Regions from separate parts of the Homo sapiens genome. Here region 1 is linked to region 2. Evidence: fine-mapped expression QTL. A gene starts in region 2. The other region holds a variant in brackets. All regions are shown on one strand. Distances are from middle to middle.

Region 1 (4,382 bases), 140 kb after region 2:
CTCAATGACAGCAACAGTAATATGGCCTGAGGGCTTACTATGTGCCAAACACTGCACTTAGTAGTGCTCTACTGAGTTCTGAATAGGTGCCAAGAGCTGGGATGCAGCCACAAGCCAGACTAAAGCCCTGGCCATGGTGGAGCCAACCTCCTTGTTGGGGGAGAAAATAAACCAGCACAAGAGCAGTCAGAGGTGCCGAGTGCTTGGAGAACAATATACATAGGAGATCGGAAATGCTGGAAGATGAGGTGGTTGCAATTTTCCATCAGGTGTCCAGGGAGGACATTTGAGTAAACATCTGAAGAGGTGAGGGAGTGAGCTGTGTTGCATCTTAGGAAAGAATGTTCCAGGCAGAGGGAACAGCAAATGCAAAGACCCAGAGGCATGCAAGGGAAAGGAGATAAAGTAGGCCTGGGCTGCAGCGAAAGAGGAGAGTGATGGGAGGCAGCAGGGGTGGAAGCCTCAGTTTCCACCTCTATAAAGTGGGAATAAAAAAGCTACCAACTTAAAACAAATGGTGAGAATTCATCAAGATCTAGCCTGTAAAGCATTTGTGCTTGGCATTGAGAAAGTGCTCGTAAATGTTAGCATCATTCCCTTTTATTTATTTATTTTTTCAAGACAGAGTCTCACTCTGTTGGCCAGGCAGGAGTGCAGTGCATGATCTCGACTCACTGCAACCACCATCTCCCGGGCTCAAGCCATTCTCCTGCTTCAGCCTCCTGAGTAGCTGGGATTATAGGTGTGTGCCACCACACCCGGCTAATTTTTGTATTTTTAGTACAGATGGGGTTTCACCATGTTGGCCAGGCTAGTCTCGAACTCCTGACCTCAGGTGATCCGCCCACCTCGGCCTCCCAAAGTGCTGGGATTACAGGTGTGAGCCACGGCGCCCAGTCGCATCATTCCCATTTTACAAGAGGAAACTGGGCACAGAGAGGCTAAATAACATGTGCAGCGTCACAGCTAGTGAGTGCCAGCACTGGAATTTGAGTCCAAATCTACTGAACCCTCAAGTGAGTGAATGGTGTTGGAGTCTGAGGGAACCCTGCTCAAGTTCCGAACAGATTGAGAACAGAAACAAGGAAAAGGCTGCTGGAGACCAAATGATCATGTTTATTGCTGATAAAAGCTGGAGGGGTGGGGGTGGAGCAGCGAGGCTTCTATCTGCAGGTAAGGTACTTTCTTTTTTTTTTTTTGAGACGGAGTCTCACTCTGTCACCCACGCTGGAGTGCAGTGGTGTGATCTCAGCTCACTGCAACCTCCGCCTCCCGAGTTCAAGTGATTCTCCTGCCTCAGCTTCCCGAGTAGTTGAGACTACAGGCGCATGCCACCACACCTGGCTAATTTTTGTGATTTTAGTAGAGACGGGGTTTCACCATATTGGTCAGGCTATTCTCGAACTCCTGACCTCAAGTGATCCGCCTGCCTCAGCCTCCCAAAGTGCTGGGATTACAAAGCATGAGCCACCGCACCTGGCCGAGGTACTTTCTTTCTAACACCAAACCCAGAAGGACATTGCTGCAGTTCCAGGCAGCACTGGTGCAGAGCAGGCTTTCCTTATATGGGGCAGAGAGAAGGGCACAGCCTGCTCCTAATAGGGAAAGGTTGAGCTGATCTGAGCATGCCCAGTTTATGCTCTCCAGACTCTCCAAGCACATGAGTCTTGGCATCTCCCCGAGCACAGCAAGTAACAGGCAGGAGGAGTGTTAAGCCTGAGGCTCCATCTTCAGGGAAGAAAACATCCCAACTAGAGAAGAAGGGACACCTTCCCCTCCTAACAAATGAATGAGCGGGCAAGTGAGTAAATGAATGAGTGATTCTGATTGGGGGGGTGCAGGGATGTCCCTTCACTCACCCTCTTGTCCACAGTTGCAGGGGCTCTCATTGCTGACTTCTTGTCTGGCCTGGTACACTGGGGTGCTGACACATGGGGCTCTGTGGAGCTGCCCATTGTGGGGAAGGTGAGTATGTTGACCTAACCATGTCCTCAAGAAGGAGGTTGGGCTGTATGGCCTTGAGTGAGTCCCCTTTCTTCTCTAAGACTGTTTCCCTATCTGAAAGATGGGAACCATCATTGCAGCCTGTCCCTCACCCCTGTGCTGCAAGACTAGAACAGGAGTCCCTTGGGATTTTGGAAGCAAAAGCATCAGGCTTGGGATGGTCCAAGAGTTTAGATATGTGCCTGCCTCATCAGAACCCCTGAATTTGGGGGTGTCTTGCTTTTCCATTGTCTCCCCTGCTGCTTCTTGCTGTTTTAACTGCATTTTATCCTGTATTAGTCACTTTTTTGGTTTTGACAGAAAATCTAAACTGGCTTAGGCAAACAAGGGTACTGATTCATGTAACTGAAGATTTCAGGGTTAGAGCCAAATTAAGGAATGGCTGCATCCAGTAGGAC[C/T]GACAGACCACATTCTTCAGGCCCAGTCTTCTTCCATCTCTATCTCTACTTTCCCCTCATAAGGTGGCCAGTGTGCTTTCTCACCGCCCAGAGATCCATCCTTCCAGCTCCCAAGAAAAGAGAACTGTCCTTCTCCTTCCAGGAGAACAGCATTTCTCCTTCCCTGTAGTTTCCGCCAACTGAAGTCCCACGGCTCACTCCCATTGGCCCAGATTGGGTCACGTGCTGGGCCCTCAGGCAGTCACTGGCTAGAGGGAGGAGATGCTATGATTGGCCAGGCCTGGTCACGTGTTCTTTCTCAGCCCGGGGCGAGGTCAGCCTTGTCAGAAGAGCCTGGACTAAGGAGGGGAGGCTGTTACCCCAGCAGGTGCAGGGGGTCCAGAGGGTCCCACCTTTTACTTAGAGGGACCTCCTCAACTGCCTTGGGGTGGGGAGGAAGGGCGGAGGTTGTCTCCAAGCCCCCTTACAGCACAGGTAGGGAGACTGAGGCCCAGAGGCAGACAGTGCCAACCCAAAGCCCTTCCAGGGTCATTTCGGCTCATCTCCCCAAAGGCTGGATGGGGTCTGTGTCTGGCAGTGGGCCAGGTGGGAATGTTCAAGCATCCCGGGTGGAGGAAACTTAGGATCAAAGGCGGGAGGTGAGCCCAGGGTGAATGTGTTTAGGGGGCTGTGGAGAGCAGCTGACCACCTTAGGCTGACTGCTGGGGCTGTGTCCCCCTCAACTCCAGGCTTTCATCCGACCCTTCCGGGAGCACCACATTGACCCGACAGCTATCACACGGCACGACTTCATCGAGACCAACGGGGACAACTGCCTGGTGACACTGCTGCCGCTGCTAAACATGGCCTACAAGTTCCGCACCCACAGCCCTGGTGAGACACCCAGCTAGTGGTGGGCTGGGAGGGGGCCTTGGGGGCAGAGGCCGACCCCCAGGAGCCTTCTGGGGCTTATGTGTTTGGCTCCTTATGGTATTTTAAAAGAGTTTTCATTCATTGTCTTCATGTAAAATCAGGAAACCTGACATGAAGATGGAGGTTTCCAGCTTCTCTTGCACAATCTGCTCTGGCCCCCCTGGGTCCATGTTCCCACCTGGCCTCACTGGGTGGGAGCTGAGCTGCAGCCACTGCCTTTGACAGGACGCGTCTTTCCAGTTTACCACCGTCCCCACTATTCCTTGCTTCCCTGCACCCAACCCACCTTGTTCATTTGTGTTACCTGCCTGGCAGGGCTTCTGGGGTTTTGCTACCGTGGCCTAGTGGAAAATGTCTAGGCTGTGAAAACAGGGCCTGCCTATTTTTAGAGGGACTGGTCCCAAAGTAAGTGATTTCACCACTCTGAGCCTCAGTTGCCTTATCTGTCAGGTGGAGGTAGGTTGGGGCCCGGTCCTGTTCCAGCACCTTAACACCCATTTGTTCTTCAGGCAGCCTCCGGTGGGTAGAGGTGGTGAGGACGTGTAGTGTAGTGGGTGCTATGGCACCCTGCCCATCCCCTTCCCTGGGGGTGCACCCAGCCCCTGCTTCTGTGAGTGGTGGCTGCTGACAGCTCCCAGCTTCTCCAGGGATGGAGGGGAGGTCCCACCTGTCTCCTTGGGATAAGGCTGGAGCCAGTGACTGAAACGCCTCCGACGCTAGTCCCTTTGCCTCTGAGTGGGTCTAATTCTAAAGAGCCGTTAACACCTCAGAGCTCCTTGCAGGAACAGACTGAGACAGGACGCCACCCACCCCATCTTTGCTCTGCTCTTCCCCTGCCGTGTCTTGCTTCCCTCCCTCCCTTCGAGGTTTTTTCCTGAAGAGGCTCCCTTGATAAATCACATGCACAAGAACCTGTTTCAGGCTCCGCTTCTAGGGAACCTGGGTGAAGGCATCATTCCCATTTTCCTGATGGGGAAATTAAGCTTCTTAGAGGCAGAGTCACCGATCCAGCCCATACTGCCAAGAAATGTCGGCAGAGATCGGAACCCAGCTCCAGCTGACTCCGGT
Region 2 (4,382 bases):
ACTGCGGGCAGGGAAGAGGGGAGGGGAGGTGGGGAGGGGGAAGGCCATGCAGGGCTGTCCTTGGGACCAGAGCAGGGACTGTCTTTCTCTCTGAGGGAGGTAGGAGTAGGGTTTGGAGTGAGGCAATGGTGTGACCTGACTTGGGTTCCAACAGGAGCCCTCTGGCTGAGTGTGGAGGGCTGTGTGGGGTGGGTGGGGAGTCCAGGGCGGAGATTCTGCCCAGGCAGGCGAGCAATGACCAGACAGAGGAGGGAAGACTTGTCGAGTTCTGGATTCAGTCCACAGGCAGAGCCGATGGAATTTGCTGAGGATTGAATGTTGGGGTTAGAGAGAGAGGAGTTAAGGACAACTCTGGGGTCTGAGGCCTGGCCCACTGGGTGGGTGGCAGTGCTGTCTTCTCAGCTGGGAAAGACATCCATGTCTCCCAGTGGGGTGCGCCCCTGGGACACCCATGGACAGACTGACAGAGCCCGCATAAAGGCACGAGGGACCCCGCACAGCTGAGCTCACGGGGCAAGGGTCAGATGAAGGCAGGAGAGGGGTCGTTTTCAAGGCCCAAGGAGGAACGGGCAGGGAAGTAAGAGGAGAACCAGCGAGACCAGCAAGCCGCCATCAAGAGGCTGGGGAAGACTGTGCTCAAGGAGGGGGCAGTTACCCAGGGGGCAGACGCTGCCAAGAGGACCAGCCAGAGAAGGCCGAGCAAACCCAGGCCCACTGTGCCACTTAGGCCGTCAGTGAGACTCCAGCTGGTGGCCAGCCCAGCCGTGCCCCCATCACCTTCGGAGCCCACATCTCTTTGGAGCAGCCAGACAGGCTGAACCCTAATTGGCCTGAGTCAGCCACGGGAATTCCTTTCTGGTTCAAATGTGGACATGTGAGCCCATCATTCCATGAGACACCAGGGGACATCCACTGGGACATGTAAGAAAAATTGTTGGCTGGGCACGGTGGCTCACGCCTGTAATCCTAGCACTTTTGGGAGGCTGAGGTGGGTGGATCACCTGAAGTCAGGAGTTTGAGACCAGCCTGGCCAACATGGTGAAAATTCATCTCTACTAAAAATACAAAAAATTAGCTGGGAGTGGTGGCCCACGCCTGTAATCCCAGCTATGTGGGAGGCTGAGGTAGGAGAATCGCTTGAACCCAGGAGGCGGAGGTTGCAGTAAGCCGAGATCGTGCCATTGCACTCCAGCCTGGGCAACAGAGCAAGACTCTGTCTCAAAAAAAAAAAAAAAAAAAAAAGTGAGATCCTGGAGGAGAAAGTCCCCTTTTCTGTTCATCTCTTCCTAGTTAGGATGTGATCATGTGGGACGTGATGTCTTGAGCCACAGCAGGCACTGGGGCCCATGAAGAAAGAGAAGTGAAGAGATGCCTACCTAGAGCGCAGGGAGCCTGCCCTGGAACACTGGAATGGCCCCACGTTAGACTTCATGTTATAAGATTTAATTAATATTTTTACTGTTGCAGTCATAGAAGATGGCCTAATTGGGGCAAGAGGAAACATAGGAATGAACCTGAGACAGGGGAGAAAATGGAGAGAGGAGGGATGAGAGCTGGAAGGGGGTCAGAAACACCCAAGCACGGGGTTCAGATGCACAGCAGGCTCCCTAAGTGTGAGTTGCTGTTTCTGCAAACAGGAGTTGTTCCCTGAGCACCTACTCTCTACCAGGTACATTTCCAAGCCCTGGGTGTCCATCAAGTCCTTTAATCCTCCCAGCAGTGCCAGGGAGGCTTCATCTGCTCCCCACATCTCTGCTTCCCCCGCCCCATGTTCAGATTCTAAAAAACCAAAAGGGCTCCCTCTAATTCATCTCGCCCCCAGAGAGCACTGACTCCCCACGGTGTCCCACTGAGCCCCACTGAGTCCAGTCCACCTCAACTTTCCTGCCTCTGGGAACAGGGTACCCACCCTCTGAGGGCCCCACTTCCCAAAGTTCTTTGTCCTGGCACAGCAGGTGCTGAGTAGCTCCCTGGACCTCTGTTTCCGCATCTGTAAAAAGCCACTAATCCTAATTGCACCTCCTAGGCTGATTGTGATGACCCAGGAAGGACCCTTGACCCAGTGTCTGGCCTGTAGTAGGGCTCGGTAAGCGTGAAATCTGATTATTGCCCATTATATTTATGGTTATACACAGGGCTGGCCCTGCCTCCTGCTGGAGCCGTGGGTCTGTCCAGGTTGAGAAGCTGAGGTGCTTGGAGCGTCCCCAGATCCCAAACAGGGAGCTGGAGTAGGAGGCGGGAGCATGAAGTCTCCTGGGCCCCGCCCGCCACCTCGCCCTGCCGCCCCTGCTCAGCAGCCGCCCCGCCCTGCCACCTTGGTCTCTGAGAACCCATTGTTCCTACCTGGCTCTGCTCCAGGGTCCTGGCCTTGCCACTTTCCTCTAGGATCCCCCGCCACCCCCGGGGCTTGGGCCTCCCCGCGGGGTCCTAAATTGGGTGCCAGATGTGGCAGCTGTCCAGCAATGGGAACAGGAGCTGGAACCCCAGCTCTGCCACATCCCAGCTGTGTGACCTTGGGCGCTTCCCCTCTCTGAGCCTCAGCTTCCTTGTTGGTTAAATGGGATGACGGGACCTCACAGGGCTGTCATGAGGGTTTCGTGAGCCCAGGATGGCAGAGTGCCCAGCATGTGGTAGGGCTCGGGAACATTCATCCTAATTTCTCTGCTCCTCACGGGCCTAGAGGAAGAGCCAGGAACATCAGAGGCAGTGGCCAGAGTGGGTAGAGCACTGGAAGGGGAGTCTAAGGCCAGGGTCCCGGCTCCAACCCTGCTGTGTGACCTCGGGCAGGCTGTGGGTATCTCTGGGCCCCAGAATGAGGGAAAGAAGTAGCTGGGATCCTCCTTCCTCCCCAGGAAGCAAAGCAGAGGGGTGGTGCCAAGTTTTCTTTTCATTTTTTTTATTTTCAGCACAAAGGGCTCAAATGGAAAGCAGCTGCAGAGACAGAGAATCCGATTGTGAAGGCACCCGAGACTCCAGGCAGGCGGAAGAGGCAGCGTCTTGGGTGCTGGGCTGGGTAACAGAGGCCAGGGTATTGACCAGAAACTCCAACAAGCAGGGGACAGCTTGGGGGGTGGGGGGTTGTCTCCCACCCCTTCTTCAGGGTGCTGGCCTAGGAGACAGGGACCCCGCCTCGGGCATCTCCTGCTTAACCTCAGTTTCTGTGTCCAGACATGGGCAGGCCATCCTGACTCTCTTAGCCTTGGTTTCCATCTCCAAAATGTGTCCAGTAGTGGCACCTTCCTTCTAGGGAGGGGTTGTGTGGTTAAGGTCTCGGGGCGGGCTCCTCAGTCAAACAGGCTTGGCTTTGATCCTGCCTCTGCCTCTCACTAACTGTGTGACCTGGAGTAAGCCACCTCCCCTCCCTGTGCCTTGATTTTCCCATCTGTGAAATGGAAACAATAATAGAACTAATCTGCTGGGGAGATGAACTGAGAAGACTCAGCCTGGTGCCTGGAGCAGAGTAAAGACTAATGATTATTGTTGTCTTTCTTTTTGGAGGCAGAGTCTCACTGTGTTGCCCAGCCTGGAGTGCAGTGGCAGTGGCGCGATCTCGGCTCACTACAAGCTCCACCTCCCAGGTTCAATCATTGACCCTCCAGCCTCAGCCTCCCGAGAAGCTAGGACTATAGGCTCACACCACCAGGCCCAGCTAATTTTTTGTATTTTTAGTAGAGACCAGGTTTCACCATGTTGACCAGGCTGGTCTTGAACTCCTGGCCTGAAGTGATCTGCCTGCCTTAGCCTCCCAAATTGCTGGGATTCCAGGTGTGAGTCACCGCGTCCAGGCATCTTTCTTATTATTATTATCCCAGGAGCTCCACCTGCTAAGGCCCCAGCCTCAGAAAGCCTCCCTTCCCCTGAGTGCTGGTTCATCTCAACAATTTCCTCACATATTTCTTGAGCAGCAACTATACCGGTCTTGGCAAAGCCAAGGTTCTATCTAGGAGAAGAAAGACATTAAATGAAGGACCCGTGTGTGAAGGGCTTGGTGAGTAGCAGGGGCTCATTGACACTGTTCACCAGCACCTGCCCCCTCAGCTGCTCTGTGCTGGACTCTTTCTGGGCTCTGGGGACACAGTCTTCAGGGGAGTCCCAATCAGAGGGTCTGGGTGGAGGTGAGAAGCTGGTGTGTGGATGAGGCAGTTTCTCACACTGTGGCAAGGTCTGTGATGGAGGAAGTCCAGGTGACTTTGGGAGCTAGAGGTCAGGATGGGCTTCCTGGAGGAAGTGGTTAGGAATGAAAATAACATCTATTCAGCATTATTATTATGATGTGTCAGGCACTGTTCTCTCCTCAACACCCCGCTCCAGAAGGTTTTCTTCTCACACACCCATTCTACAGGTGAGTCTGGGATCAAAGAGGCCCAGTAGGGTGTCAGAGG

The links. PIP is the estimated chance that this variant, and not a neighbour inherited with it, causes the effect.
Region 1: its variant is the best candidate, but not a certain one, in a credible set for the expression of PELATON in subcutaneous fat (GTEx, PIP 0.58).

The regions. Positions count from the first base shown.
Region 1 is chr20:50,128,439-50,132,820 of GRCh38, reverse strand. It overlaps PEDS1-UBE2V1 (PEDS1-UBE2V1 readthrough), which reads left to right. Exons shown (of 8, transcript NM_199203.3): 3 at 1,874-1,965; 4 at 3,131-3,275. PEDS1 (plasmanylethanolamine desaturase 1) reads left to right here. Exons shown (of 6, transcript NM_199129.4): 3 at 1,874-1,965; 4 at 3,131-3,275. Among named protein-coding and RNA genes, the nearest start is that of UBE2V1, 17 kb to the right of the region's middle. The variant C/T (reference allele first, on the strand shown) is at 2,403.
Region 2 is chr20:50,265,625-50,270,006 of GRCh38, reverse strand. PELATON (plaque enriched lncRNA in atherosclerotic and inflammatory bowel macrophage regulation) reads right to left here and starts at 2,529. Exons shown (of 4, transcript NR_170992.1): 1 at 2,344-2,529.